4 linked regions of the Homo sapiens genome follow. The protein of the gene in region 2 purifies or fractionates together with the protein of the main gene of each other region. This does not show direct contact. Each region holds a gene or a part of one and is shown on either strand. Other genes may lie near its edges.

Region 1 (8,000 bases), on a different chromosome or scaffold from region 2:
TCAAAAGCTCTTCCATGTAAGCCAAAATGTAATTCAGTAAAAGGAGAGCTATAATGCGTTAAAATGATATGGTTCAGATAGCTGTTTTTGGGACTAACTTCACCAAAGGATAGTTTTTAGACTCTTTAGAGCTGTGGTCTTCCAGCTCCTCTTGAACATATGCCCTATCAGTAAAAAACAATTTGAGTATACATCCTGTTTATAAATCATTTATATATTTATAAATTATATAGAATTACTGCAATAATATATTTTTGTATTACAGAATGTATACACAATGAAAAATTTAAGTGGATGAAATAACAGTAAACGTTACTGGAAGTTCTATAATTTTCTTCCTACATTCCAGTGTTTCATTGTGTGCACCCCTTGGGATGACTTACCCCATTTTGGAACTCACAAATACAAATAAATGACACTCCTCCACTGATAATTTTTTTGTTTTCCTTAACTAAGCTTTTAAGAAAACATTGGGCCGGGTGTGGTTGCTCACACCTGTAATCCCAGCACTTTGGGAGGCCAAGGCAGGTGGATCACCTGAGGTCAGGAGTTTGAGACCAGCCTGGCCAACATGGGGAAACCCCATCTCTACTAAAAACACAAAAATTAGCTGAGCATGGTGGCACATGCCTGTAATCCCAGCTACTCAGGAGGCTGAGGCAGGAGAATCGCTTGAACCCAGGAGGCCAAGGTTGCAGTGAGCCCAGATCACACCACTGCACTCCAACCTAGGGAACAGAGCAAGACTCTGTCTCAAAAAAAAAAAAAAAAAAAGAAAAGAAAAGAAAAGAAAAAATAACACTGGGCAACATAACTTCAAGATTATTTCTTTGACAAACACTGGAGTACAGCTATGCAACTGGCTAGGGTGGAGTCACATATTTTTATAGTCAGGTGGGGGATAATGCGGGGACTGACATCCTTTTTTGTGAGTTGAGGAACTTGACCAGGACACACATTTGGCTAGAACTCTATTCCTTCTCTACAGTGGCAGATCATGACATGCCAGCAAAAACACATAGGCAAATGGATAATGAGAGCCTCAAAATTCTGGCTCACAGGTCAGAGATGCAATACTGTAACTAAAATATGTATCTATACATAAAAACACATTAGTTTTTTTTTTTTTTTTTGAGACAGAACCTCGCTCTGTTGCCAGGCTGGAGTGCAATGGCACGATCTTGGCTAACTGCAACCTCCACCTCCTGGTTTCAAGTGATTCTCCCGCCTCAGCCTCCCAAGTAGCTGAGATTACTGGCACCCGCCACTACACCCGGCTAATTTTTGTATTTTAGTAGAGATAGGGTTTCATCATGTTGGTCAGGCTGGTCTCAAACTCCTGACCTCAGGTGATCCACCCACCTCAGCCTCCCAAAGTGCTGGGATTACAGGTGTGAGCCACCGTGCCTGGCTAAAAACACATTCTTGTTACCTGTCGAGACATACAGTGTCAGTGATAAAATTAAATCTCAAAAATCTAGAATCAGCAATGTATGATTTCCAACTGTTAATATTGTAGCATTTCATATCATTTAATAAACTCCTTGTAGGTGAATCTAGAAAAATGTTTCAATGACAATTCAATAACAAATACTGTTAGGCAAAATAGTATGCAAAATCCTTGAATATTCACTCTGGATAAACTCTTAAGACAATAATCAGTGTTTCCTTAGATTTTATTCAATACTCATCAGTCAACGTATTTTTCAAGCTCCTCCATTTCTACACTGGTGTGCCTCCAACTTGTCGATCATAAATAATTCTGCTGTAATAGATATCCTTACTCTGTATGTTGCTCAAATTTTAGAACTGACAGTTATTGAGAGTCTAAGTGCAAACGCTGTGCTACATGTTTTAGAGACATTAGATCATCTGATTTTCACAACAATCCTGAAATGATTACAATTACTCCCATTTTATAGATGAGATAACTAAGGCAGGAATTTAGGGTCAAGGTCACACAGCCAAGACTGAAACGTAGGTCTATTTCCCTTCAAAGCCTAGCTCCTTTTACTACACTGAAAAAGGGGGTTAAAATAACTGAACGAATCCAAGGATTTTCAGGTGAAATGCACATCCTGCAAGTGAAAGGTAATCCCTCTTCATTCTGAAAGCTGAGTAGTATTTTAAGCAGTAATTACAGGTGGCTAAAAACTAAAGGCTTGGAAAGGATCAAGGTAAGACTACCCTCCAATTTTGTATTATTTTAAGTAGTTTAAAATTACTCTTACTCTGTCATGCCCTTATCCTACAGCTAAAACACAAAGCTTATGAAGGTCAGGGTTGACTTCACATTCAGTTGACTCTGTAAAGCCCAGATTATTACAAAAAGCATAGCTCAACCCTCCTTCCCGAAAATCTTTGCCACAAAACACAGCATAATTCCAAAAAAATTGAATGTTAAAAGAACTAAAAGGCAAATAAACAAAAACTTTTTAAATCAGTAACAAACTGTCCTTAATGATCAGTTTTATAATGGGTTCAATGTTGCAGTAAATAATATTAAGGGTTAGAGTATAATCCAGATGTTCAATTCATTCCATTATCAAACTGGAAATCAGATTTAGTAACCAGTTCAGACTCCAGAGAGCTGGTTCATAATCAGATAATGGGGGAACTAGACAACTTTCCTAATGATACCAACTACAGAATACAGATTTTAACTATGTAGGAGAATAAAAGCCACTTTTCGGGTAGCACTTCAGTCTTTCAATTTACAACACATTTTCTAGTTTGCCAAGTCTTAGGCTTGAAACAGACCTCAGAATATATCTGATGTTAGCCCCTAGCAAATAAGTATTATTACAACTCACTTTATAGAAGAGGTAACAGAATTCTAGATCTTTAATAAAGGGATTGGAATCTTTCAGTTTCTTACAGTTTTTTTTTTCAACCACAAGAACACAGTTTTCCAGTAGGCAAAGAGAGATGTAACGTTTACTGAGCATTTACAAAGAGTCAAGCACATATGTTATCTGTCATTCTCATAGACCGCGTATTACACAAACAGAGATCTAGGCTTTTGCTCAAGGTCACAACTATAAGTGGTAGAAGAGAATGATATCCAGGTCTGTCCACACAAAAAGCTCTGGGTAGAGCTTGTTCAACAATTTCATAAATAAGGATAGACTTAAAAAAACACACTGGACCTATGGGATGAGAAATGACACTGACTCAAGCCTGGATGAAGTAAAGCATGCAGTTTGGGGGAGGGCTCAGTCTGCAGGCCTCTGCCAGCAGCAGCTGAAGAAAGTGACCTTTACTCCAAACCCTACAGTGCGACAAACCACCCATCCAGCTCTGCCTAGAGTGGGTTAATATGCCACAATTCGAAAAGAGAAAGAGAATGAGTGTTTCATGGTGGCCCCAGACAGTTTGGTGGCCGCAGAAGTTGAGAAGGCTCAAATCTGGAGATCAGGTTTGGGTTGGAGTCGTGCGTAAGGGAGCGGATGTCACATAGGTGGGGAAGGGAGCTGACTTGAGATACGTTGGCTTAGGAAGAGATGTTGCAGGAGAGAGGGTGAAATGCACAGGCTAGGAGAGTAGACGGCTTCACTTGAAGGGAAGGGATTGGGGCTGTGGATGCCTCTAGAGGCAGTTGTCAGAGGGCCTCTAAAAGGTCCATTTTAGAGGAAGCGAGAAGGAAGGTCTCGATAAGGAGCCATTCAGGGTCCATTACCTGCTGGATGGTTGTACAACGGCCTCAATTTCTCGGGCAGCATCAGCTCCACTTTATCGAGGAGCCGGTGGTAGGTGGCCCGCAGGCCTCGGGCACCGGCGGCCGACATCGCCGCCGAGGGATCGTTGGCAGCCGGGTGGGAGCGTGGCTGTGTTCTCGTCCCTGGCTGACAACGAAGGGGAGCTAGTCACTTTTCCTGCCACGACGACTCGCGTCCGCCTCTCGCCTGGAGTACCCTTCCCGCGGCTTTCCCTGCCCGCTGTGAACCGAAAAGCTGCGGCCCGCGCCCCGCGAAGGTTGAGGGGGCGGAGGCTGCCGACTGCCAGCCCCCGGTCCGCCTCCGGCCCCCGGCAGGAGAGAGGGAGGAGCCATGGCAACAGGTGCCAAAATAATCACCTCACCAAGTCTGCGCTGCGCCCTGCTGGCAGCGCGCTTGCGCAGGCCGAGCTGCCCGCCATGATTGGCCCGCCCCGAGGCGCGGGCGGGGTCGAGCGGAAACCTCCTCCTTCTCCCCATGCCCTCGAGGCCATGTTGGAGAAGGGAAAGTGAAGCTGCGCTGGTTCTACTGCCCTTTCACTTTGATTAAGCAGGCCCGTAGTTAAAATGGGTTTTTGGGCCTTCAGTGCCTAAAGATGATGCCGCACAATTCTCTTGCTTCTTTTCACTGGAGACTCGTGAGCGAGAGACTACAGAATTGAGTAGCTTCTCTCTCTACTCGTCTTTTATCCCTAGCGACTTAAGGATCTGGTTAGAGTGGCCCGAATGCATTCTTCCAGGGTGAGGGCAGCCGCAGCACACACCAGCCTCAGTCCCCAGGGTGGTCGTCATCTCGCGAGAAAGGGTTGGCGGGGAGGGTATCCAGGACGAGGAGAGGGAGGAGTCGCCATCGCCTCCGCCTCCGCCTCCTCCTGTTGGAGGGGGGCTGAGGGAGGAGACTGTTGCTGATCTTTGGATGTTCTGGTTAGTCTAAGAAGGAGAGTATGAGGCGAGCTCCGGCCCGGGTGCGGCCGGGCTTCAGGGGCCCAGGCGCCGCTGCTGCCACCGCCATCTAACGCTGCGCCCTGGAGGCCCGGCGCGCGGATGGTGCCGGTGCGGCTCGGGTGTTGAAACGGGTGTCCCCTCCCCCTCCTCCCCTCCCCCACGCGGTGGTCTCCCCTCCCACCCGGCTCAGGCAGAGCCATGTCTCGGGGTGGCTCCTACCCACACCTGTTGTGGGACGTGAGGAAAAGGTCCCTCGGGCTGGAGGACCCGTCCCGGCTGCGGAGTCGCTACCTGGGTGAGCGGGGGCCCCGGGGCGGAGGCGCTGAGGTCGCCGCCTAGAGTGGGGGAGGGGGCACGCTGCCGGGTCTGTTGGAGGTGGGACGGCGTCTCGGTGGGGGCGCCCGGAGACTCTGGGGTGTTGGGTGGGGCCTTGGTTGCCGAATTCCGTGCCGGTGCCTCCCCCAGTCAAGCCCCCTGTGCATGCTGCCAGCCGCCGCCCTTGCTGGGTTTTTCTCGGAGGGCCGGGCCGTGGGCAGAAGGTACTGGCTTGTAAAGGTGTTGGGGTCGCTGATGGGTTGGGACTCGGGAGACTTGCGGAACCTCCAGGAGCTGCCGCGTTTAGAGCAAAAGTTAGCTCTTTTGCTCTTTTCCAGCGCGCTTTCCCCGCTCAGCCGAAGAACCTAAGTTGTTGCCCACCCTCTCCTTCAATCTCCAGAGGGTTTAGGTGTCGGCTGCGACGCGTTGACCACCCTCAGGGACTTCACGCTCCAGACAGAATCCGTGTAAACTGTTTTTGCGGCGCTGAGCCAAAACCTAAAAGTGATAGCTGAGCTCTCCCCACCCCCGCGCGCTCTCCCAGTTCCACTCTGCTCTTCAGTTCGTTTTGACCGCTTAAAGGTGGTGTAGGGTTTCACGTTCCTCTTCCCACCCCTGGAAAACACACTTGGCATTTACAGTTTCGTAGTTAAGCTTTCTAAAAACAACCTTCAGTACTTGGGGGAACAGTATTCCACTTTTTTCGTTTTGCATAACATTTTTTTTTTGAGGATTCTAGGTCACGCCCGAGTCAACTAAAAAGTTTGGTTTCTTAAAAATGGACGTACTTAGTAAAGGTCTTTTTTGTTTCTTCCTGTATACTCTTCATTACTCTTTCTTTCTATTTGGAGATACGGCAAACAACATCATAAAATTTTTTTCTTTCCAGTTTTGCCACTTGCTAGTTAAAAAGTGTTTGTTGCTCTCATTTGTTTTTGATTTCAAGTAAAGAGAAGAAAATGAAATCTCATTACAACCAACAGTTCTGGTTTGTAAATTATTTAAGAAAAGTTAGCATGCAATTTTTTAATTCTTTTTAGTGTCTCAAGTAAAATACGAATACATTTTGTTTATAAAAACTCAATAAAAATGAAGCAAAAATCCCTTTGATCCCTCCCATTCAATTTCACTCCGCCACCCTTAGAAATAATATTTTCTGTTTTCTGAATATTCTTCCAGACCTTTTTGTTTGCATTCTTACAAGTACATATGTACATGTACAAATGCTGGGGTGTGTGTGTGTTTGTGTGTGTATGAGAGAGACACCTGAGTGCATGGTGTCATATTGTAAACATTGTTTTCACTTCTCCACATTTTGGAGATCTTTCCATGGCAGTAAAAATAGATTGATTCTGTCTTTTAAATTATTACATAGTAGGTAACATTATGAAGTACCATAGGGTACTCAACCTTTCTTCTTTAAGTAGACGTTCGCCCTTACAGCATTTTAATGAACATCATTCTACAAGCTTCTGTGCATTTGTTGTAGGATAAGTACCTAGAGTGGTGATTAATCATTTTAAAATTGAACATAGCTGGAGTCTGGTTTTTAAAACTATTTACCAAAAAAAGTGTGCAGTATTTCTTTTAGAATTTATTTGCGGAGAAAGAACTTAATTTTAGCTTAATAAAACAAACGTTAACATTGTTTTGCATGGATACATTTATAATTTGGTCCTTTATCTCAGTTGGACAGTTTAAGTACTTGTATATAGTTCTATATTTTAGTGTTTTCTTTTGGTTCAGTTACTTCAGCTATATCTACAAACGAGTTAATTAAAATATAACAAAACCATATACCTGCTTTTCCCCCTCCTACTCCAACTCCCTAATGGAAATGGAATTTGTGTATTGGGTCTAGGGGAATTGAAGGGTTCACTGACTATATTAGAAAGCCTGAATTACAGTTTTTCAAATGTGTATGTATACATACAGGGAGTTCTTTATCTTAAATAATATTTTAGATATGATAATATATACTCTTAAAATAGGACATTTTTGGAATGACTTCCTTTAAAAGTGGTTTTCTAAGTACTTGAAAATACTTTTTGAAAGTATCGAAACTTGAAAATGTTTGCAAAGAACTAATTTATTGGCCTTTACCCTTAGTAGACCTTTACACTGTTATTCAGCTCTTCTATACTACAGTGCTAATCCTGGCTTTGCATTCAGGAAGCAGCAAAATCCACATTGGTAATGTTTGAATTAGTGATGGTTTTTTTTAAAAAATGACTTTCCCTCCCAGTTTTATTGGGGTATAATTGACAATTAAAAATTGTTATATTTAAGGTGTAGGACTTGATAACTTCATATACAATCAAGTTAATTAACATATCCATCATGTCACATAATTACCATCTTTTTTTGTGTGTGGCGATAAAATGACTTTATCATTATTATTAATTTTATTTTTATTATTAGATAAAATGACTTTTTAAAGTACAGTACTCTTGGCCGGGCGCGGTGGCTTACGCCTGGAATCCCAGCACTTTGGGAGGCCAAGGTGGGTGATCACTTGAGGTCAGGAGTTTGAGACCGGCCTGGCCAACATGGTGAAACCCTGGTCTTTACTAAAAATACAAAAATTAGCCGGGAGTGGTGGCGTACGCCTGTAGTCTCAGCTCCTTGGGAGGCTGAGGCAGGAGAATAGCTTGAACTTGGGAAGTGGAGGTTGCAGTGAGCCAAGATTGTGCCACTGCACTCCAGCCTGGGCGACAGAGGGAAACTCTGCGTCATAAATAAATAAATAAATAAATAAAGTATGGTACACTTATAAAGCCTTCCTTTTAAAAGTCAAATTCCAAGTTAGGATTTTCCTAAGGAAATAGATTCCTTTTTTAAAAGACTTCAATATTTAAACATTACGATTGTCTATCTACAGGGTTGTAGATTTAAGTATTTTTCTGATACATTTTCATTATTTGTATTTCTACAGATTTTTTAGCAGTGAATTACTGCTAAATAGTAAAATTGGGATAGAACAAATAGATAAATTTTTCTTGTAGCCTTTACATTTCCAGTTATT
Region 2 (7,768 bases):
ATCTTTCTGTGGACATACGTTTTCATTTCTTTTAGCTAAATACAGAGTAGTTAAAGTGCTAGATCATATGGTAAATGTATGTTTAACTTTACAAGAAACTGCCAGAGTATCTTCTAAAGTGGCTGTCCAATTTTTGCATTCACATCAGTAATGTCAGTTCCAGTTGCTTGACGCTGTCAGTAACACTTGGTATTGTTAGTCCTTTTAATTTTAGACATTCTACTAAGTATGTAATAATGTCTAATTGTTATTTTAATTTTCATTTTTATAATTGACTAATGAAGTTTTGCATTTTTTATGTGCTTTGTCACCATCTGTTTCTCTACCTTGGTTCAGATCTCTGAGCCCATTGTTTGATAGGGTTGTTTTACTGGAGTTATAAGAGTTCTTTAGATATTCTGTATAAGTTCTTTATCCCTTAATATGTATTTTGGAAGTGTGTTCTCTTAGTTTTGACTTGCTGGTTTTTTTTTAACGCATCTTTTGAGAAATGGAAGTTTTAAATTTTGATGAAGTCCAGTTTTTCATTTTAATAATATTTTGTGATTGTTTTTCTCCTATTGAAGAAATCTTTACTTCAGATTCACAAAGATCTCTAATGTTTTCTTCTGATTTTTTCTTTATCCAGTGTTTCATATTTTAACTTTTAAATTAAGGTCTATGGTACATTTTAAGTTATTATCATAGAGGGTAGAAAGTAAGGATTTCTTTTTTAATATGGGTATCTGAATGTGCCAAGACCCTTTGTTGAAAATATCATATATGACTACATATATCTGAGACACTTTCTGAATTTTGTTTGATTGATCCATGTACCTGTCCTTAAGCCAATACCACACTGTCTTGATTGCTGTAGCTTTATAATAAGCCTTAAAATCAGGTCACTTAAGTTGTCCAGTTTTGTTCTTTCTTCTCAGAATCATATTGGCTATTCTAAGTCTTTTGATTTTCCATATAAATTAATAATCACATGAACTATTTTTTTGAAAAGCTGCTGAGATGTTGATTATTCTTTTCCAGACATCTTTACTTTTTATATTATGTAGGTAACCAAAAAACAAACTTAGATAGACTGATAGACACAGGAAACAAAGATAAATTTTTGGTATTTGCCATACATGTAATAAACAAGAAATTAGAGAATTGAAATCATATATAGGCTGGAGATTTTTTAAATTTCCTGTGTTTTTAAGAAATGTCGAAGTCAAGATTTCTGAGCATTCTTTTTTGTTTGTTTGTTTGTTTATTTTACAGACAGGATTGCTTTCTGTCGCCCAGGCTGAAGTGCAGTGGTGTGATCATAGCCCACTGCAACCTCAAACTCCTGGGCTCAAGCAATCCTCCTGCCTCAGCCTCCTGCCTCAGCCTCCTGAGTAGCTAGAACTACAGGCACATGCCACCATCCCCAGCTAAATTTTTTTTTAAATCTCTTGTAGAAATGGAGGTGGTCTTGCTATGTTACCCAGGCTAGTCTAGAACTCCTGGCCTCAGGCAGTCTTCCCAAAGTGCTAGGACTACCGGTGTGAGCTACTGCCCCCAGCCCTGAGTGTTCTTTCTGCTCCATTTACTAATTTTGGTAGTTCTCTGGTTTATACTCTTTCTGAAATCCAGCTTATTCTGTCAGACACTATGTTAATTTTTTGGTCATACTTGGAAATGCCATATACTCCTAATAGGTATTGTTCTGGGGACTCCTTTTACAGGCAAGCTGCTTATTTTCATGTACTTCAAATAGAACTTTCTGTCTTAATTTCTTTATAATTATTGTCACTAATTTGCCTCACCAGAGCCATGTATAAAGTTTTTTTTTCCCCATTTGGTACGTTTGAATAGCTGGCCATAAATTACTTTAACAAATGTCTATATGAAGAAATTGTACTGTTAGCTAGAAAACAAAACAAACTTCCAGCTTAAAATTTATAAAAATCACAGTGTTCTAATTATAAAGGAAAACTGGAATTTAGAAAAATTTTCCCCTCCTGTTTTCCTGCTTCATTATTGCTGCTCTCAGGCCTGTAACTTCTTCAGCCTCAAAGTCTTTTTAAATTGAGAGACAGCTGTCCTTATAGTCAAAATCAATCTCATAGATAATAAAACTACCACTCTAAACTCTGAAGCATGGATGTTTATAATAATATGCTTTTATTCCCTCTAAAACAGTCTAACTTTTCAACATACACTATTTTTGAATTGAAATATTCATAATAATGCATTAAAGTTTTAATCATTGTTATTTTTAATTAAATGATTTGAACCTGATGAAGAAAAATAAGACCTTTTGTGAAAACAGGGTTATGTTCTTAGTAAATAATTGATAAATGTTATAATTCATGATGTGTTTAAACAGACTAGTTTGCCATCATTAAAATATCACATAGTACCTACTTTTATGTTTTTCTTTTCTGTTCTAGGTCACAGTGTGAGAAACGTCCAGGCCTTTGCAGTTCTTCAGAATGCATTTTTAAAAGCAAAAACCAGCTTCCTTGCCCAAATCATCCTTGATGCTATCACAAATATTTACATGGCTGACAATGCCAATTACTTCATCCTAGAGTCACAGCACACATTGTCACAGTTTGCAGAGAAGATTTCTAAACTCCCAGAAGTACAAAACAAATACTTTGAGATGCTGGAGTTTGTTGTTTTTAGCTTAAATTATATACCTTGTAAAGAACTTATTAGTGTCAGTATCCTCTTAAAATCTAGCTCTTCTTATCACTGTAGCATTATTGCAATGAAAACACTTCTTAAGTTTACAAGACATGACTACATATTTAAAGACGTGTTCAGGGAGGTTGGCCTTTTGGAGGTCATGGTAAACCTTTTGCATAAATATGCTGCCCTGTTGAAGGATCCAACTCAGGCACTAAATGAACAAGGTAAAGTATTGTCTGTAATTTTATTTTTATTTGAAAAGGGGTTCAAAACAGAGAATTTTTTGTTCTTGTTCCCATTCTTTGGTTATTGATTTCAATGACTTCCTAATGTGCATTATTGTGACATATTAGTGAACTGTATTTTCCAAAATTTACAGGTTCATTCAACCTCTGTTAGGTAATTGAGGAGGAGGAAGCTAGAATTATGTGAGTGTATTGGAGAGAGTTTAAAGGAAGGTAAAAACTGAGGGAAAACATGTATGATCCACATGACTAGTATCTACTGCCTTGTGCTTCTAAGAGCGAGCTTTAAAAGCTTCTGAAAATAATCAGATTTGTTATTAATTACAACTAATAAATATAGTTAAATGTATAGTTACTTCAATGTGTTTTTATTGTACAGAGCAAATACGTATATTTAATGATGTTATATACACAATGTATTATCATTGGGTACCTCTCTGATAAATCTGATAAAAGTACAGTAGTATCTGGCAATTAATAAGTATTAAATGTGAATTAATACAGGTTGAATAGATAGCTTTATTCATGAACTTTTCTCTCTTTTTGGTGTATCAAAATCTAGCGTTCTCCTGTTGACATCCTTTATTAGGAAAACCCTCTGTGAAGAGGATATATTTAACCTTTGCATTTTCATTTTTAATATTTATTGGATAACGGCCACTTGCAAGCATACCGAAATAAAATCTGTTAATATTGATTTTGAGCCTACTTTTGCCAAATGTTGGATGCATGCATCGTTTTAAAGATTATATTATATCTGTCCTATTAGGGGTAAAACTGAATACTGAAGAAATAAAGAAATTATTACAGTAAAACGGAATCAAGAAAAAATAAGCTTATCACTTTTGTAATTTGGACCTTTGAACCTTTTTTTAGGGGACTCAAGAAATAATAGTTCAGTTGAAGACCAAAAACACCTGGCTTTATTGGTTATGGAGACCTTGACAGTGCTTCTTCAAGGATCAAACACAAATGCAGGTAATTTAAAAAGCTGCAAGCAAATACTTTGGGAGATTACCACTGATTACATCTTCTGTGGTTATTCTTGCTTCTGAAATCTTCCTGTCACTTTAGAGAAAAAACTATTGATTCAGTGATGGTACCCGTCATGTCCCTAAAAATGCAGTGCTTTTGACCATCAGGAGCACCTTGATGACAAAACATATAAGATTGTTACTATTTCAAAATGATGTTTAAATTGCTTTTTATAGTGTCTTGTGTTGAAAGTATTCTTCTAATTTTTTATTGATACACTCTTACTCAAATAAGTTGCTATTTAAATTCTTTCTAAAATATTTTCTTTACACAGTGATTTAAAGAATATTTTTAGTACTACAAGTTAGAGTATTATAATGTTACAACCTTCAGGAAATACTGAACAATGATTCTCTAATAAAACGTAATCTCTCCAAGGTTAATTAACTTTACTAAATATTTTGTTTAATTTTGGTCTCAATTTCTCTTTTATACTTTTCTACCTGTCATTAACAGATAACCTAACTATATTTATAAAATATCACTCTTGCTTTTTAAAAAAGATTACTTGAGATTTTAATTAACATCAAACAACTCTCAGGTAATAAGTTCAGTACAACTTGAGAGGAATAATGAGTTCAGATTAGTAGGCTGGGCTCAAATCATAGGGAGCTTTTTAGGCCATGGTAAGGAGCTTGAAATATATTTTAAGTGTTATGGAAAGCCATGGATGAATGAACCCCATGCCCAAATGCATGACTGTTTGCCTGAATGCAGGGAAACTCAGCATTCATCATATTTAAAATATATTGTGTATCCCAGGTACCATGCTAGCTAGGTGTTAGATTATTCTAACACCTAGATGCTAAGGTAAGATCATTCTTGCTCCCTGGGAATTAGAATCTAGTGAAGAAAAATGTAGACACATAATTATAGAAGTAATTAGTCTGATACAAATTTGGCAAATGCTAAGATAGACTTGAATGAATTTAACAGGTAATTGAAACAATGAGTATGATGAATTTTAGTGGATACTATAGTAACATTTTGTCTATGGCATAATGCATAATCTTATTTCCACTAACTAGGTTTAGTTAACTGAGATAATCAGAAACATAATGAAGATAGACTAACAGGAATTTGCTTAGCAAATTAGCTTTCCTTGAGACGACCTAGAAGTTGCACAGGAAGAGATTGGACAATTGGAGAGCTTACTCTGCACGACTAAAAGTCACTTAGTACATATCCCAAAGTGCCAAACAATTTCATACAATTCTTTTCAGTTTTTCTTTTCCCAGTATGAAAGATGTTACTAGCTGTGTGATGTTAGGCATTTAAAACAGTACTTTACTCATAGTTTAAGTATTTAAATAATATTAGCCATTATGATTATCTAGTGGGTCCTAACTGACAACCAGGAGGTAACTAAACAGGCCTTCAGGTAATGAAAGGATGTCACAAATTCCATGTGCTGAATCTCAAGCACATGGCTTAGACTGACTTCATGATCTTATAATTTTTATAAAGTTAACAAATAGAAAGCCACTAAGCAGAGAGGACAGTGGCTGCTATAGCAGAATACACTGTTTTAGTAAACGTTTATTGAAACACAAATCAGGAGAAAATCCAGTAGTCATGGAAGACCAAACATAAGCAATAATAGTAAGACTGTTTGTTATAAACCATAATAGAGATATAAACAAGATGCCCTAAAAACGTAAGGGATAGAAGAATTACTTAGAGGAAATACTAATTAGTGATTTCAGTCACTGGGCCCATTTTTTTAATACTGGAGGATGATATTAATATTTGATGTGAGAACAGTATCACTTGTGAGCAGGAGCACAGGCTTACAGAGCTGGGCTATGTAGGCATACATCCTTTTCTGTTGCTTACTAGCTGTATGACTTTGACCGCCTTACCTCTATATGGTAGGGGATGAGTATTAAGTAAGTCAATCTGTGTAAAGGCTTTGGAGCAGTAACAATGACACATACTTCTGTTACAGAATTTGTCACTTTTTGTTCTTATGCTCTACCTGTGCAACAAAACATGTTGGTTCCTTGTAATTTTTCCCATGGTGGAATAATTTATTCCATTCCTTTCTTGCTACTATTTTGGAAGCCATGTTCATTTAAATCTCCTTTATTTAGGCTATTGTTCCTCTGAAAGCCTTTTACATAAGTTGATTACAATAGAGAGTCTCCTAGGGTCTGCCTAAGAGACTTGTGAATGTTCTAGATTTTGAGAGCTTGGACATGGTGAACATATCACGGCATTAATCTTGCATTAAGGAAATGTAGAGAAAATTTGCATATACCTTTGCTGACAACCCACTGTGCAAATTTGTATTGTAATTTAAAAGGTGAAATAGTTGGGTAGGTTTTATTTACATTATTATGAGTTACTTTACCTACAAAAAATAACTGAATGTTAATTCATCTGACTTGTCTCAGAATATTTTAAAGTAGCCATTGTTGGACTTTTTCTCCTTCCTTCAAGGAATTTTTCGAGAATTTGGAGGTGCAAGATGTGCACATAATATAGTAAAGTACCCTCAATGCCGGCAGCATGCCTTGATGACTATCCAACAGCTGGTGCTCTCCCCAAATGGGGACGATGACATGGGCACTCTCCTGGGGCTAATGCATTCAGCCCCACCGACGGAATTGCAGTTGAAGACTGATATTTTAAGGGTAAGTTTGATAAATGTGTTTCCCTTCTTTTACTACTAAAATCTGTGGTTATTTTTAGATGATCTGTATTTAAGTTAGAGACAGGGAAATTAAAAAAAATCCAAATTACCCAAGAAACCTCACAACTTTGTACACGTTAGGAACTTGGAAAAACTCCAGTCATTTATGTCTTTCAGTATATATTTTACTTCTGCTGATAAACCTTTTCAGTAATTATCTTGACTTACTGGAACTCTTAAATTAAATATTAGTGAAGTATAGGATCTTAATTAATACTAAATATATGTATTTTCTGATCAGTTAAATTCACTCATAGTGTTATGCATCTGTGAAATGAATGTTAGATTTGGCATTTTATACACATGCATGCATATATGTATGTATGTAAGTAATGGATATTCTAGTAGATATCAAACAATATACCAGGAGTTATACATATGCTTTTATCATTTACTCCTTAGTAATACTATAAATTAAGTAGCACCCTGTTTTGCAGATGAGAAAACTTAGGTTTAGAGAAATCATATAACATGGATTTTGTTCACTTAAGTGACTTTTAATTAGTAGAACCGACCCCCAGATTTCAATACCCGTTTTATTTCCACAGCACCATTGTTTTATACAGATTTATACACTCACATTCTCCCATATTACTGGTTATTGATATTATAAGAAATGATATGTAAGAAATTTTTAGAATCAAACTATAATCGAATGTTTCACTTTCATTTAGAAGTGAATTTAGTAATGCAAGTAAGGAGTAATGGAAAAGTAGACTATTAAATATTAAATGATATATTTTAAAAATTTCCAAGTTCCAGATATAATAGTAGCTAACATTTATTGACTGCTTTCTATTAGTACTGTTGTATGCATTTATCTGCATCTACTTATTTAATCCTTATGATAAAAATAAATACTATTAGTGTCCCTGCTTTACATACTGTAAACTGAAACACAGACTGGTTGAAATATTTTCCCAAGTTCTATATGTCTGTCTAGTAGGTAGAGGAGTCTAGATCTGAACCCATGTAGTCTCTTTGTAAAGCTGTGCTTTCAGCTTATCTGCTGTGAATAATAGTTGTTTTAATAAAAAGAGACATAGCCTTCTCTTTCTGTGACTAAAAACCTGCTCTTGTATTTAAATAATATCTGAGTAAAGTGAAAGAAGTCCATTAAAATTTATGTTCTTTAATT
Region 3 (8,376 bases), on a different chromosome or scaffold from region 2:
GAAAATCCATCTTAAGTTAATTTGGATATATTGTATAAGACAAGGATCCTACTTCATTCTTTTATATGTGGATACCTCCTTCCTTTTGGAAACTTTTCCTTTCAGTAATCTTACTACCTCCACAGCTTTAGTTTAGATGTTTTTTGTTGTTGTTGTTGTTTCCCAGGGGTGATCAAATCCATATATCCAGCTTTTACCACCTTCCTGAGTTCTAGTCCCCCCATTTTCAAACACCACTGAAAATTTAGTTTGACTAAGTACATCAACCTATTATGTGAAGAAACACCATGTCCCACCCCCACTACGGTGTGGCTTAATGAGCTAAAGTAATATATCAAGATAGACATAATAATCCAAGAAACTGGGGTTCAGAGAAGTAAATATTATTAGGGTGCATCTTGCGCTGTTCCAGAGTGAGGCATATAGGGTTTTGGGGACAGAACAATCTAGTCTCTGATAATGTTTTCTCTTATAGCACAGGCACATTTCATGAGCCTTTCCCACTACCTAGGTGTTCCAGTTTGGATGTGGTTTGTTTGGCCTAAGTCTCATGTTGAAATCTGATTTCCAGTGTTGGAGGTGGCGTCTGGTGGGCAATGTTTGGACCATGGGGGTACATCCCTCATGAAAGGCTTGCTGCCCTTATGGCAGAAGTGACTCAGTTCTCACTCTTAGTTCCCAAGAGAATTGCTTGTTGAAAACAAACTTGTACCTCCTACATGCTCTCCTTCTAGAAGAGGATCTAAGGAAATTTATAATAAAAGCAGAGGAACGCTGAAACCAAACCCAATTCATATCAGTAATAGCTACCATTTGTTAAGCTTCCACAATGACAAGTAAGATGTTAAGCCCTTTATGTTACCAGGATTATCTCATTTATCTCATAAGAATTCTAGAACATAGGTCCTATTATTATCTTTATTTTATTCGTGAGAAAAGCAGAGACTCAGAAGGCTTAAGTCATAGGCCAAGGTCATCCAGCCAGTTGAATGGTGGAGTGGGGAATATCTGGATCCAGGCAGTCAGACTGTTTTTTTTTGTTTTTTTTTTTTTGAGACGGAGTCTCGCTCTGTCACCCAGGCTGGAGTGCAGTGCCGTGATCTCGGCTCACTGCAAGCTCCGCCTCCCAGGTTCACGCCATTCTCCTGCCTCAGCCTCCCAAGTAGCTGGGACTACAGGCGCCCACCACCACGCCCGGCTAATTTTTTTTTTTTTTGTATTTTTAGTAGAGACGGGGTTTCACCATGTTAGCCAGGATGGTCTCGATCTCCAGACCTCGTGATCTGCCCACCAGGCAGTCAGACTTTATTAGAACATGCACTTAAAATTAGCAAGAAGGAATGAGAACAACAACAACAAAATTAAAAAATGCTTGCCAAAGAAAACTAAAACAATGTGCAATATTTAGCCCTGAGATCACTAGCAGTGAAGGCAAAGAAGAATGCATAATGGGTTTCTACAGCTCTCACTGTCCGGTTATAGAAAATATTTCTACATTAGTACAAGCACTTTTCTTCCTAAGCCCTGAGTTTTGAGAGTTTATCAAGAAGGCCTCTGAGTTCATTCAATTAATGGCATCATCTAAGGCTGTTTAATAACAAATGCAGAGGTAGTCCACATAAGGAACTTTTGCCTTTACCTTTGAGACAAAGCCCAGGGCCTCACGTTAGGAGTACAGCTCTCTAAATATAAGCCTCCAGGGCAGAAGCGAGGGGAGGATGGAGGGACACAATGCAGATTTACAGCCTGGTGGGTACGGCCTTTGTCCTCTCCATGTCTATTGTCACTCTTGAGGTCCAAGCCTCTACTGCACTGCCTGGTTTACTGCACAACCCAACTTGGCTGCTTGCTTCTGGTCTCTCCCCACCAAACCATCCTTCACACTGCTTCCAGCTTAATATTTCCAAGACACTGCATTTGCAAATCCACTCCTCTGTTTAAAAATGTTTCAGTGACTTGCAACTTGTCTACAGTGTGAAGTATAAATTTATTAGCTTGTTGTTTAAAGCCTTCTACAACCAGACCCCGACCGACCTTCACGTCCTATTGAGAGGTGACAGCCTGCTGGCAGCCCTCGCAGCCCTGGCTCGCTCTTGGCGCCTCCTCGGCCTTGGCACCCACTCTGGCCGCGCTTGAGGAGCCCCTCAGCCCGCAGCTGCACTGTAGGAGCCCCTTTCTGGGCTGGCCAAGGCCGGAGCCAGCTCCCTCAGCTTGCAGGGAGGTGTGGAGGGAGAGGCGCAGGCGGGAACCGGGGCTGCGCTCGGCGCTTGCGGGCCAGCGCGAGTTCCCGGTGGGCGTGGGCTCGGCGGGCCCCGCAATCGGAGCAGCCGGCCCGCCAGCCCCGGGCAGTGAGGGGTTTAGTACCTGGGCCAGCAGCTGCCGTGCTCCATTTCTCGCCGGGCCTTAGCTGCCTCCCCGCGGGGCAGGGCTCGGGACCTGCAGCCCACCATGACTGAGCAGCCCGCCATGACTGAGCCGCCTGCCGGCGCCCCAGCCATGGGCTCCTACGCGGCCGGAGCCTCCCCGACGAGCGCCGCCCCCTAATCCGCGGTGCCCAGTCCCATCAACCCCCAAAGGGCTGAGGAGTGCCGGTGCACAGCGCGGGATTGGCAGGCAGCTCCACCTGCTGCCCGCTGCCGCATCCACTTGGTGAAGCCAGCTGAGTTCCTAAGTCTAGTGGGGACTTGGAGAACCTTTATGTCTAGCTAAGGGATTGTAAATACACCAATGGGCACTCTGTATCTAGCTCAAGGTTTGCAAACACACCAATCAGCACCCTGTGTCTAGCTCAGGGTTTGTGAATGAACCAATCGGCACTGTGTATCTAGTTAATCTGGTGGGGACTTGGAGAACCTTTGTCTAGCTAAGGGATTGTGAATGCACCAATCGGCACTCTGTATCTAGCTCAAAGTTTGTAAATGCACCAATCAGCACTCTGTGTCTAGCTCACGGTTTGTAAATACACCAATCGACACTGTGTATCTCGCTAATCTAGTGGTGACCTGGAGAACTTTTGTGTCTAGCTCAGGGATTATAAACGCACCAATCAGCACCCTGTCAAAACGGCTCAATCAGCTCTCTGTAAAACAGACCAATCAGCTCTCTCTAAAATGGACCAATCAGCAGGATGTGGGTGGGGCCAGAGAAGAGAATAAACACAGGCTGCCCTAAGACAGCAGCAGTAACTCACTAGGATTTTCTTACCACAGTATGGAAGCTTTGTTCTTTTTGTTTTTTAGGTCTGCACTGCCTTTATGAGCTGTAACACTCACTGCAAATGTCTGCAGCTTCACTCCTGAAGCTAGTGAGATACACGAACCCACCGGGGTGAACTAGCAACTCCAGTACATGCCGTCTTAAAAGCTGTAACACTCAGGCGAAGGTCTGCAGCTTCACTCCTGAGCCAGCAAGACCACAAACCCACCAGAAGGAAAAAACTCCAAACCCATCGGAACATCTGAGGGAACAAACTCCAGACACACCGCCTTTAAAAACTAACACCGCGAGGGTCTGCAGCTTCAGTCTTGCGTTAGTGAGACCAAGAACCCATCAATTCTGGACACACTATCAACTTTGTTTCTCCAAGGGTGCTTCTTAAACTGGATGATGCACACCCTAGGAGTGTGTGTGTAGGATGGGGTTTGAAGCAGTAGGGTAAAAAACCTAGCATACATTCTATTCCAGAGGTGTCAATTTACCAGACAACAGTTATTTTAAAACTTTTTTATGCAAAAACATGTTATAGGGTGGAATGCAACATTTTTATGGGCCTGTGGGCCATTTGTATACATCTTTGGAGAAATGGCTATTTAAGTACTCTGCCCATTAATTCTAAACTTAAAACTAAGACTTCAAAGTCCCTCTAAGGATTTTGCTGGGCCACATCCCAAGACCCTGAAGGGTATTACTTACTCGCCCTCTCCAAACTGCCGAAGTCGGAAGCAGGTGACAAAAAAGCTGACCCTGGAATCACCTTTTGTAAATTTCCCACCTCCAAGCTTTTCGATAGTTTGTAACACTGGCTCCTCTCCCCAAAAGCCTTTCCTTCAAGTCCCAGCAACTCTCCCTGACCCTGCTGGGAAGGCGCACCAATTACCTGTCATTCCAGGAAAGCTCATAGCATAAGATGATCCCATTGGTCATCTCCCAGAACCAGACTTTCTGAAAAGTCCTCAAGGACCAGCTAGTCCAATCCCTCACTGAATAAAGGAGAAGCAAAGTCTAGGGAGGTGAGGTGATTCGTTGTCCTCCTAATTAGCAGGTGAGCTCCTGGCAGGGCTGGGGTTTCATCTTCTGGGCTCTCTGCAAGGTCGTGCCCGGCACGGGCCAGGAACAATTTCATAAACTCGTCATCTAGACGGCCTTTGACTGACACCATCTCTCCGTGTGGAGGAGCCGCTGGGGTGCACGGGGCAGGTGTCGTCCGTTTCAAAGGTAAAATAACCCAGCTGCAGACCTCCAGAGGCCGACTAGAGCCGGGGTCAGAAAACAGGTTTTCCCTCTCGGGGACAGCGCCCAGGGGACCGGCATTAGAACATCGGCTGATGTTTCATCTGGTCAGGGAACCATCCAGCGCTTAGTACACCTGGCGCTAATCGGCGGGGATTAATCTCACACCCCGCAGCTGGCGGAAAGCAGCGGGAGGAGGCACCTAGCCCTGGGGTTGAGATCCCAGTTCCCGCGTGCGCAAACCACGCCCCTGTAGATTCTCGCTGCTGCGTGTTCGCGCGCGTCCCGGAGTGCGCATGCGCAGCGGCGGGGGTTGTTCCGGCTGCCTTTCACTGAGGGGACCCGCCAGTTTCTAACTCAGTGGCGTTTGCCCTGATTCCCGGGGCCTGGCTTTCAGCGTAGCAATTCTGCCGGCGAAGAAGGTGAGCGCAGTGCTGTGTGGCAGCAGAGCTCCTTAGGACGAGGAGCAGCGGGACGAGGAAGGGCAGACTGGTGAAATCGCAAACTGGGCGTCTGTTCCGGCGCCGGACCCCTATTTGCAAAGGTGGGTGGCCCGTCCGGAGCGGGAAAACATTCCGGAAGTGGAGGGCCGGGCCAGCGTGATTGACAAGCGGGAACCCCTGTGTGGGGACGGGTAGGCCTAGGAAGGTTGTGCCTGCGGTGGAACTGGGCGGTGCGCAGAAGTGGGCATTAACAGCAGCCGCGTGTCTGGGTCTTAGATTTGGCCCAGCTGTGTTGAGCTTTTCATGGATTATCTTACGTAGATAAGACACTGCAACAGTGAGTGAGCGCTTGTAACCCACCTGTCTCTTACGGAAACTGAGCCCCAGCGATGCTAACTTTAGCAAGGATACAGCTGGGATCCTAAACTTGGCAATCAGAGCCCAGAGCCGATAAAGTTAGCTGCATGAGTCTAGCTTCCCCCAGGGCGGGAATCGAGGCGGAGCAGGGTACAGTACGGAGGCCAGGAATGAGTGCACTTGACCAGATTGTTGACGGAAGTGTCATAAAAATGGACTTAAATGCTGATAAGCAGCTGTTTGGGTTCCACACAGGGTGCGAGCTCAGGATGCACGTTGGAGGGGACACAGGGCCAGAGCAAGGTGGGAATGCGGGTATTATGGGCCAGGCCATCCTCCAGCTGGTGGAGCACCGCAGTACTGCAGTGTGTGGCCCTGGCTTAACAGCAGTGCGGAAAAGCTTTTTTCTTGGGGCTGTGGTGCTTTCCAGGTGTGTGAAGTTAAAACATTTTAGGGCCATACGGTAGATAGTACCTGCCACATAGTTGTCTTGGTCAGCCCCGGCTGCCATGACAAAATACCATAAACTGGGTGGCTTAGACACAGAAATGTGTTTTCTCACAGTCCCAGAGGCTTGGGATGTCCAAGATCAATGTGGGGAGGACACAACTGAGCCCACAACAATAGTCTGTACTCAGTAATGAGTGATAATTGGGGACTGAAGAAAATGAACACGTTAAGAACTAATATGTTCCTGAAGTGCTTTCACAACTCTAACCTCGTTTTATGAGCGTGAGCTTTGCTGTCCTGGTGTGTGCCTTGGCACTGGGAGGTGATGGTTGTCCTCCACACAGCCAACCTGAAGAGGGCTGAACAAGTCACTGCAAATGTTTTTAATAGGGCTTAGTGAATCCGTTATACTCAGATTTATCTAAACCTCTATGATTTAGCCTGTGCTGCTTCTGGAATAATGAGATCCATAATTACCACTGATGGGGAAGTGAAATAATACTTACGTTTCTTCTGTATTGTTTAGTGTTGTCATTCTAGAGTTTGGTAACCAAGTCTGTCTTTTTTATCCCACTTATCCTGGTGGGAGGAAAAGTGAGGAGATAGAAAGTTTCAGGTGGCTTGGGGGTCTGGCAGATGTGGTTCAAATCCTGAGTTCAAGCACTTGCTGAGTGACCTTGGGCAAGTCATATAAGTTTACTGAGTCTCAGTTTCTTTCTCTATAAAATAGAGCTTATAAAAATACCACACAGGGTTTTTGTGGGGTTATCTGAAAACGGTTTGAAACCATTAAAGAACTGGCCATTTAACTAATAGGTATTCAAGTCATGGGACCTCCGTTACCCAGCCTCGGAAGAGAAACCTTCACTTACAGCCCCGATGTCTGGCTGGCTACTCATTCGTTCATCAGATTTTTGTTGAATGCCTATGAGGTGTCGAAGCACCTAGTTCTGAGTCCTGGAGCCAGAGAAGAGCAAGACAGACAAGGTTCCTCTATTTATGGAACGTATATTCCAGTGAGGAAGAATAAATAGGTTCAGATGGTGCTAAGAGCTATGAATAAATTAAATACAGAGTAATGTGATTTTTTAAAAGTGACTTAGAGCAAGCTAGGGGGTGAGGAGTGGGGGTGGTGTTTGACCACTGTCCAGCGGCCAGACAGCCGGAGAGGCTTCTCTGAGGAGGTGAGCCAAAGCCTGGATATTGAGGAGGACTCCTTCTCCAGGCCAAGGGGAGCAGCAAGTGCAAGGCCCGAGCTGAGTAGATGAGGCTGGGAGCCTGACCAGTCTCAGGCTGACCAGTGCTCTGTCTTGAGAGGAGCTGCTGGTCAGCTTTTTGTCTTGGGATTCAGAACGAGGAGACATGAAGACTTTTTACTTGGCAGTGGGAGCTGAAGCTGAAAGGTCCAGGGGCTGATGAGGCCACGTGTAAGCGAAAGTTTGGGATAAGCAGAAACCGAGTGCGCTGAGGGAGTGAGATTGTGGCTGTATCCGGCACCTGGCTGAGCAGGAGAGTGAACCCCGTGGGTGTGTGTTTGCTGGTGACGTTCCTGGAGCTGTCTTGAAGTCCGAGCTGCCTTGCAGCTTGTAGTCTGCCTCTGTTTTTGGCTTTCCCAGATAGTTTCAATTCTTACTCTCAGTTTGTGAACCTCCCTTCAGTGAACCTCCCTTCACTTATGCTGGATATCTCTTGCAACCGGATGAGCTTCACTAAAGCAGAGTCATTTGGACCTGGATTCGAATCCCTGGTTTTCCACTTTTTAGCTGTGACTTTGAGCAATTATTTAATTTCTGTAAGCATCAGTATCCAGTAGCTGTATCCTTATAGTGTTGTACAGATTAAATGAGATAATAAAAGCAAAAGACCACTGTAGAGTGTTTAACACATAGGAGGTACTCAAAAATTTGTTAGGTACCTTTCTTCCCCTTTCCTTCATGTGTTAAAGCTTTTTCAGTACATACCCCTCTCTCAGGATTGAATTGTAAATCATGTTTTTTGATTACCCTTCTTGTAATAATTCCTCTACCTCTGTAGTCATGTTTTTCTTTTTTCATTTTTTCTTGTCCCCAGAATGTCTAACAAAACAGCCAAATATACCTCTGTGAAGACAGAGGGTAAAATAATGCTAGTTCTGTGAGTTCTCTCTTCTTGTGCAAATCCATAAACTGCCACCAATCTGTAGTCATTTTAATTGCCCCTAAACCGAAGAGCATCGTGGCAACTACCTTTCCCCTCGTAAATAGAGTGACACTATCACTAGTCTTATTGAGGCCAAAGTTATAAAGATGGGCTCTCGATCTACTAATATTAGTAAAATGGGTTTGGGACTTACTAACATTTGTGCTTAGAAGAGACAGACCTGGCAAAGAGCTTGGAGAAGTGAGTTCCAAAGAGAGAGGTGTGGGAACCAGGATGGAAGAGTCAGGCCTCCAGATAGCGTTTACTTCTCCTTTCTTCCTTGAATCACTGTCTCAGAGATAATTAGGTTCAGGAGAGGAGAAAAAAAAAGATGACGTCAACGTGGAGCAGAGTTTTTCTTAGACCTTAGCCTAGCAAGGAAAGAGAAATGCCTGGTCTCAGTACTGGGAAGCTGTTCCAGCCAGAGCCCCGTGGCTGTGAAGAGAGCTCTCCTGTCTGGAACCAAACAGAAAGCTCATAGGTCTAGAGGCCAGAAAAG
Region 4 (7,768 bases), on a different chromosome or scaffold from region 2:
CATGAAATACATTGTTGTGAGCATGTATTGCAGATTATCATGATGTTGAAAACATAAAAAGTTGGTCAAATCATTTACAGAGAAGTTTGCAAAGCCAGGAAGGTCACATCTGCTAGCATTTTCTTTAACTACAAAAAGTGAAAAAGAGCATAAAGTAGTTGTTTACTTACTAGATGCCAGATCCGATTTTCATGATTTTAGTTTGTTCTGATGTTGCCTACCGGGCTCTCTAAATTAATGGGACTGTTAAATTTCAGATGAGATCCTTGAGCAAGAAGATATGACAGTTGTATCAGATGATTGGTTGATGGATTTTATTTATTTTTAATGATTTATTTAGAAATAATGTTAGACTTACAGAAAAGTTACAGAGAGAGTACAGAGTTCTTACATACTCTTCACCAAGCTCCCCCTAATGTTAACAACTTACATAACCATAATACAGTGATCAAAACCAGAAGTTAGCATTGGTGTAACTCTATTGACTATAGATTTTACTTAATTTCACTGGTTTTTCCCCATTAATGCCTTTTTTTTTGTTCTAGGGTCTAATCTAGGTTCCCACGTTGCATTTAGTTGTTGTGTCTTCTTCATTTCCTCCAATCTCTGACAGTTCCTCAGTTTTTGTTTTTCACGACCTTGACATTTTTGATGAGTACTGTTATTTTTTAGAACTTCTTTCATTTTGGGTTTGTCTGATGTTTTTTCTCATGATTTGATTGAGGTTAAGCATGTTTTGCAAGAAAACTACAGAAGCGATGTTGTGTCCTTCTCAATGCATCATATTGGGGGTACATGGTGTTGACATGTCTTTTTGCTAGTGGTATTTTAACTTTGAACCCTTAGCGGTATTCTTCACAGTAAAGTTACTATTCTTCCCTTTATTGTTCATACATATCTTGGGGGAGACACTTTGAGACTGTGGATGTACAGTTTCTCCTCAAACTTTCTCCCATTGATTTTTAACATCCATTGGTAGATCTTGTCTGCAACAGTTATTACTGTGGTGTTTGGCTAATCATGATTTTGTATTTCCCTCATTCCTTCTGCATTTATTAATTGGAATTCTTTAAGGGAGAGATGTCCCCTTTCCCTCACTTATTTATTCAATTATTTGTTTATATTAGTGTGTTCTTATGGGATCTCTATTTTCTATGGATTATAATCCAATACTATCATTATTTATTTTGTTGTTCAAATTGTTCCAGCTTTGGCCATTGGAAGCTCTTTCAGGTTGGCCTCTACCCTTTTTCAAGCACTTTCTTATATTCTGGGGCCACAGGCTGTTCCATGCTCATCTTATTTTTCCTTGCACCAGTCCTGGAGTCGACTACTTCTCCAAGGAGCTCTGGTTTCTTTTATTGGAGAATAGTATTTAAAATCAAAATCTGTATACTCGGTATGTTTATTGGAGTTTTATTGCTCCCAGGACTTCAGTTGGCAGAACTAGGAAATATATCAGTATATTATATATATATATATATATATATATATATATATACACACACACACACACACATACATATATGTGCACACATATTATTTATATATGTGTGTGTGTGTATATATATATATATATATATTTATATAAACATATATGTGCACACACACACACACATACTGACGTTTCTTTCTTTTTTGAGACAGGGCCTCACTCTGTCACCCAGGCTGCAGTGCCGTGGCGTGATCATAGCTTACTGCAGCCTTGAACTCCTGGGCTTAAGCCATCCTTCCACCTCAGCCTCCCAAGTAGCTGGGACTACAGATGTGCACCCACCATGCCCCGCTGATTTTTTTTTAATTTTTAGTAGAGACGAGGTCCTGCTGTTTTGCCCAGGTTGGCCTTGAGCTCCTGAGCTCAAGTTATTCTCCCACCTTGGCCTCTCAGAGTGTTGGGATTCCATGCGTGAGCCACAGTACCCTGCCTGTATTCTATATATATTTAAAACCATGGGTTCATATTGACACCTATTCTAATCCAGTACCACAAAGTTCATTCTAACCTTCTCCCGTTCCTTCTGTCTCTGTCAGAAACCTGGCTTTCATGATATAGAGTAAGTATACTCACTTATTTGTTGACTTCTAGAATACACATGAAGTGGTTACAGATTGCTAACCTGTACCCTAGTGAAAAATGTATTTACTAATTAGTGTATTTGTATGTAGTTATTTTTGCTTTAGCCTTATAGTATCTAGTCAAAATAGTTTTCCAAAGTTACTTAGGTTAGTTATTTTCTTTACCACTCCCTTTAGTTTAATCTTATTCATCCCTAATGCATTAAGTTCATTTGTTATTGTTACTGTTCCATTTTGGGTTCCCTCCAACCCTAGTTGATTTTAATTATTATTATTTTTTGGCATATGAAACATTATAGTTACTAAACACTGCTTCTACTAAACACTACTGTATAAAAAGGTGTACTGGGCTGGGTGCGGTGGCTCATGCCTGTAATCCCAGCACTTTGGGAGGCCGAGGAGGGCGGATCACCTGAGGTTGGGAGTTTGAGACCAGCCTGGCCAACATGGAGAAACCCCATCTCTACTAAAAATACAAAATTAGCTTGGTGTGGTGGCGCTTGCCTGTAATCCCAGCTACCCAAGAGTCTGAGGCAGGAGAATCACTTGAACCTGGGAGGCGGAGGTTGCGGTATGCCAAGATCACGCCATTGCACTGCAGCCTGGGCAACAAGAGCAAAACTTTGTCTTAAAAAAAAAAAAGGAAAAAAGTTGTACTGAAAAGTGTCACTCTCTCCTTGTTTTTACTATCTCATTTCCATCCCTCCATCTTTGTTTCTACCTCTTGCCCATGCCCTGTGGGTACATAGTCTCTTTAGTTTCTGGTTTGTCCCTTCCTTTATTTCTGTTACACAAATGAAAATATATGTGGGTGTTCTCTTATATTCCTTTTCTTCTGATACAGTTACTTATTGCCATACAATTCACATACCATACAACTCACCCTTTTAAAGTGTACAATTCAGTGGTTTCTAGTATATTCACAAGATGGTGCAACCATCACAACTATCTAATTCCGGAACACTTTCATCACCCCCAAAAGAAACTGTGTATCCATTAGCAGTCACTTCCCAGGTCCGCTTCCCAGTCTACTTTCTGTCTGTGTGTGTTTGCCTATTCTGGATGTTTTGTGTTAATGGATCATATAATATGTGGCGTTTTGTGCCTGGCTTCTTTCACTTAGCATAATTTTGTCAAGGTTCATCCATGTTGTAGCATGTATCAGTACTTCATTCCTTTTGATAACTGAATGTTATTCCGTTATGTGAATATACTACATTTTGTTCATGCGTCAGTTGAGGTACATTTGGTTTTCTACTTCTTAGCTGTTATGAATAATGCTGTTTTGTACATTCATGTACAATTTTTTGTGTGGACATATATTTTTAATTCTCATGGGTATATATACCTAGGAGTGGAATTGCTGGGTCATATGATTACTGTATGTTTAACTTTTTGAGCAACTGCCAGATTGTTTTCCTGTTCCCTTCTTTTTTATGTGGAGAGTATACTATACTCTTTTGCACTTTTTTTCACTCAATAGTATATCCTGGAAATGACTCCAAATCAGGTCATTCTTTTGAAGAGATATTCCTTTCATTTTCTTCGGTCTTTTTTTTTTTTAAGACACAGTCTCACTCTGTTGCTCAGGCTGGAGTGCAGTGGTACAATCATGGCTCAAACTGTGGCCTTAATCCCCTGGGCTTAAGCGATCCTCCTTCATCAGCCACCCAAGTAGCTGGGACTACAAGTGTGCACCGCTATACCTGGCTAATTTGTTGATTTTTTGAGATGGGGTTTTGTCATGTTGCCCAGGCTGGTCTCGAATTCCTGGGCTCAAGTGATCCTCTCACACTGGCCTTCCAAAGTGTTGGGATTATAGGCGTGAGCCACTGCACCCAGCCTATTCTTTTTTACAGCTGTGACTTGACTGTGTAGATGTTTCTTAACCTCTTCAACCATTCATCTATGTATGGGCATTTAGGTTGTTTCTTATGTAAATAGCCTTGCGCGTAGTATTTTGGTATCGTTAGAACCGTATCTTCAAGGTAGATTTCTGTAAGTGTGATTGCTGGTTCAAAAGTTAAGTGCACATGTAGTTTTGTTAGATATTCCCAAATTCCAGATTTTCCTCCACAAGTATACCAATTTGCATTCTCACCAGTAATGTGTGAAAGCACCAACAGAATACGTTGTCATACTTTATATATATATATATATATATATATATATTTTTTTTTTTTTTTTTTTTTTTTTTTTTTTACCAGAGATAAGTGATTAAAAGAATAGTAGTCATTCGGGTGACCCCTTGTGGATGAGTGCTTAATGCTTGCAGATGGTTGGTTCTTATAGCTTGAAAATGAAATACATTGTCCACTAATACTGCATTCATACATGTAGCTTATTATGTGCAGGTAAAGTCCATTAGTTCTGGCCTAGTCAGGATTGTTCATTTTAACATTTTGCATTTAATGGAAGTGCTACATTGATTCATAGTACCTGTGCTCTAAAATACTTTTGGGGTTTAACAGAGGATAACTGAAATTCTAAGAATATTTCTTAGGCTAGAATATGTGATATGGTAGTTACTGGTTCACATTGTACATAGTTATTTTGAACGGTATATACAGTACGTATTGATACCCATGGTATGGTAGTTATTTGGACCAGTAATGGCAGTATCTTGGAACCTGTCATAGTTCCATAAGGAAGAAGGGCAGTCGTAATGAAAATTAAACCGCGAGTTTAAAGTTCTGGGTTAGGGCAATCCTATTAGATTTTAGCGGTGCCAAAAAACCAAGACAACATGAAGAAATCCCCATCTTTTAGGGTAACAAGTGCTGCCCAGCAACACTGGAAATTTAGGTTCATTCCCAGAAAGAGTGCTGCTCCAGGTGCTTGGAACACATTAATTGAAAATCAAAGATTCTGGCACTTGATGAGTTTATATTCCATTCGTTTTCTTTTTAAGAAATTATTATTTGGCCGGGCGTGGTGGCTCACACCTGTTAGTTCCAGCACTTTGGGAGGCTGAGGTGGGTGGATCACCTGAGGTCAGGAGTTTGAGACCAGCCTGGCCAACATGGTGAAACCCCGTCTCTACTAAAAAAACAAAAATTAACTGAGCATGGTGGCGGGTGCCTGTAATCCCAGCTACTCGGGAGGCTGAGGCAGGAGAATCACTTGAACCCAGGAGGTGGAGGTTGCAGTGAGCTGAGACCCACCGCTATACTCAGCCTGGGGGACAAGAACGAGACTCCATCTCAAAAAAAAAAAAATTATTATTTTTCTTTTTTTTCGTGGTTTTCTAATGAACTGATGTTCCCAGGAAAATAGATGCTGAGTGCTGATTGTGAATGGAACCAGTAAAGGCCTGGGATAGTCTTAAAGTACAATCACCTTTGCTGCTATAAAAACTTCAAATAATACTTCATTTTACTGATTACAAAATAAGCCCACAAAAGTCACAGGATGGTAACATATTGTTCACCAGTCTCTTCTCTCTCATTTTATTTGTTTATTTCAGGCTTACTTACTTATTTATTGTATAAATTTAATGTGTACACATGATGTTTTGATATACATAGTGAAATGATTGCTGTATGTAAGCAATTTAAGATACCCATCATCTCACATAGTTACTTTTTTTGTATGTGCTAGGAACATTTAAAATCTACTTTTAGAAAATTTCTGGTATATAATATGCTAATATTAATTATATTGCTCTTGCTAACTTTATTTATTTTTTGAGACAGAGTCTTGCTCTGTCACCTAGGCTGGGGTGCAATGGCATGATCTGCGTTCACTGTAACCTCCACCTTGGGTTCAGGTGATTCTCATGCCTTAGCCATTGGAGTAGCTGGGTGTGTGCTGCCACACCTGGCTAATTTTTTGTATTTTTGAGGAGATGGGGTTTTGCCAAGTTGGCCAGACTGCTCTCGAACTCCCGGCCTCAAGTGATCTCCCTGCCTCGGCCTCCCACAGTGCTGGGATTGATTACAGGCATTAGCCACCGTGCCCAGCCCTCATGCTATATTTTAGATCTCTAGATTTATTCATCCTACATAACTGCAACTTTGTTCCCTTGACCTGCATCTCCCCTACTCTCCTAGCCACTGTTCTAGTCTCTGTTTCTATGTATTTGACTTTTTTTTTTTTAAGATTCCACATATAGAAGAGATCATTTAGTGTTTTTTTTTTTTCCTACGTCTGACTTGTGTCACTTAAGACAGTGTCCTCCAGTTTCATTTGTTTTGTTGTAAATGGCAGGATCTCCTTTTTGAAAGCTGAATACTATTCCAGAGTGTGTTTGTATCACAATTTCTTTATAGAGCCATCCACTGACAGACGTGTAGGTTGGTTCCATATCTGAGTTAGTGTGAATAATGCTGCAGTGAACATGGGAGTGCAGCTCTCTCTCAGAGGTGCTGCTTTTATTTCTTTTGGGTTAAAACCGAGAAGAGAGATTGCTGGATCATATGGTGGTTTTCTTTTTAATTTTTTTTTTTTTTTTGAGATGGAGTCTCACTCTGTTGCCCAGGCTGGAGTACAGTGGCATGATCTCAGCTCACTGCAACCTCTGCCTCCCGGGTTCAAGTGATTCTCCTGCCTTGGCCTCCTAAGTAGCTGGGACTACAGGTGCCTGCCACCACACCCGGCTAATTTTTTTGTATTTTTAGTAGAGATGGGGTTTCACTGTGTTAGCCAGGATGGTCTCCATCTCCTGACCTTGTGATCTGCCCACCTCGGCCTCCCAAAGTGCTGGGATTATAGGCGTGAGCAACTGCGCCCAGCCCTTTTTAATTTTTTGAGAAACCTACATACTGTTTTCCATAATGGCGGTTCCAATTTACATTTCCACCAACAGTGTTCAAATATTCCCTTTTCCCCACTCCCTCATCAACACTTATCTCTTGTCTCTTTGATAATTGCCATCCTCACAGGTGTCAGGTGATACCTCATTGTGGTTTTGATTTTTTGATTTGTGTTTCCCTGATGATTAGTGATGTTGAGGCATTTTTATGTCCTATTTGGAGAAATATCTATTCAAGTCATTTGCCCGTCTTAAAATCAGGTTATTCATTTTTGTTTTTTGCTATTGCGTTGTGTGAGTTCCTTACGCATTTTGGATATTAACAGATACATAATTTGCAAATATTTTCTCCAAATCCGTAGGCTACGTTTTCATTTTGTTAATTGTTCTTTTGCTATGCAGAAATGTCTCTCATTTTAAATTATTCCCAATAGTAGTAATGGAATAATAATAATGGAATAATAGTAGTATAGTATAGTTTCTTTTTTTCTTTCAACTGGGTTTCATAAGAGAATAAACCCAAATGCCCAAAGACATTTGGACATTTGTTATATGTAAATAATTAACTTTTCTCCAATGTAGGATGGCACTAGTTATGTACCATCCTTGTGAGAATTGAGAAAGTATCCACTCCGACCATTGTCAATGTTCTGAGGTTCAGATAACAAGCCCCAGTTGAGAAAGGTCACGGGCATTGTCACCAGTTAGATCTGTTCTTTCCCCCAGCTCCTTCTTCCTTCTACCAGTTAGGTAGAATGATGTTAGGCAAGTCTTAATCTCTTAGTCTCAGTTTTCTGATCTATAAAATGGGAATAATTATAGTTGCTACGTCATAGGGCTGATGTGAGGATGAAATAAACAAAATCTTCTACATCTGTATTTATTTAGTTCCATGACTTTAAATACTATCTATATGCCAGTTGACTCACATTTATGTCT

What was found.
Region 1: the proteins of WDFY3 (region 2) and DCAF6 purify together in Homo sapiens (affinity purification with mass spectrometry; 2 studies listed by BioGRID and IntAct, with this or other methods). This does not show direct contact.
Region 3: the proteins of WDFY3 (region 2) and DDX11 purify together in Homo sapiens (affinity purification with mass spectrometry; 2 studies listed by BioGRID and IntAct, with this or other methods). This does not show direct contact.
Region 4: the proteins of WDFY3 (region 2) and HERC1 purify together in Homo sapiens (affinity purification with mass spectrometry; 2 studies listed by BioGRID and IntAct, with this or other methods). This does not show direct contact.

Annotation. Positions count from the first base shown.
Region 1 is NC_000001.11:167,932,054-167,940,053, forward strand, and holds the start of DCAF6 (DDB1- and CUL4-associated factor 6), read left to right. Parts: upstream 1-4,629; 5' UTR 4,630-4,858; coding exon 4,859-4,955; exon of another isoform or gene 4,956-5,019; intron 5,020-5,025; exon of another isoform or gene 5,026-5,199; intron 5,200-8,000. Other genes in the region: MPC2 (mitochondrial pyruvate carrier 2), read right to left, coding at 3,680-3,788. UniProt on the Homo sapiens protein: Ligand-dependent coactivator of nuclear receptors. Enhance transcriptional activity of the nuclear receptors NR3C1 and AR. May function as a substrate receptor for CUL4-DDB1 E3 ubiquitin-protein ligase complex.
Region 2 is NC_000004.12:84,816,195-84,823,962, reverse strand, and holds part of WDFY3 (WD repeat and FYVE domain-containing protein 3), read left to right. Parts: intron 1-2,411; coding exon 2,412-2,879; intron 2,880-3,776; coding exon 3,777-3,878; intron 3,879-6,377; coding exon 6,378-6,571; intron 6,572-7,768. UniProt on the Homo sapiens protein: Required for selective macroautophagy (aggrephagy). Acts as an adapter protein by linking specific proteins destined for degradation to the core autophagic machinery members, such as the ATG5-ATG12-ATG16L E3-like ligase, SQSTM1 and LC3.
Region 3 is NC_000012.12:31,069,099-31,077,474, forward strand, and holds the start of DDX11 (ATP-dependent DNA helicase DDX11), read left to right. Parts: upstream 1-4,761; 5' UTR 4,762-4,993; intron 4,994-5,166; exon of another isoform or gene 5,167-5,446; intron 5,447-8,376. UniProt on the Homo sapiens protein: DNA-dependent ATPase and ATP-dependent DNA helicase that participates in various functions in genomic stability, including DNA replication, DNA repair and heterochromatin organization as well as in ribosomal RNA synthesis.
Region 4 is NC_000015.10:63,823,295-63,831,062, reverse strand, and holds part of HERC1 (probable E3 ubiquitin-protein ligase HERC1), read left to right. Parts: intron 1-7,768. UniProt on the Homo sapiens protein: Involved in membrane trafficking via some guanine nucleotide exchange factor (GEF) activity and its ability to bind clathrin. Acts as a GEF for Arf and Rab, by exchanging bound GDP for free GTP.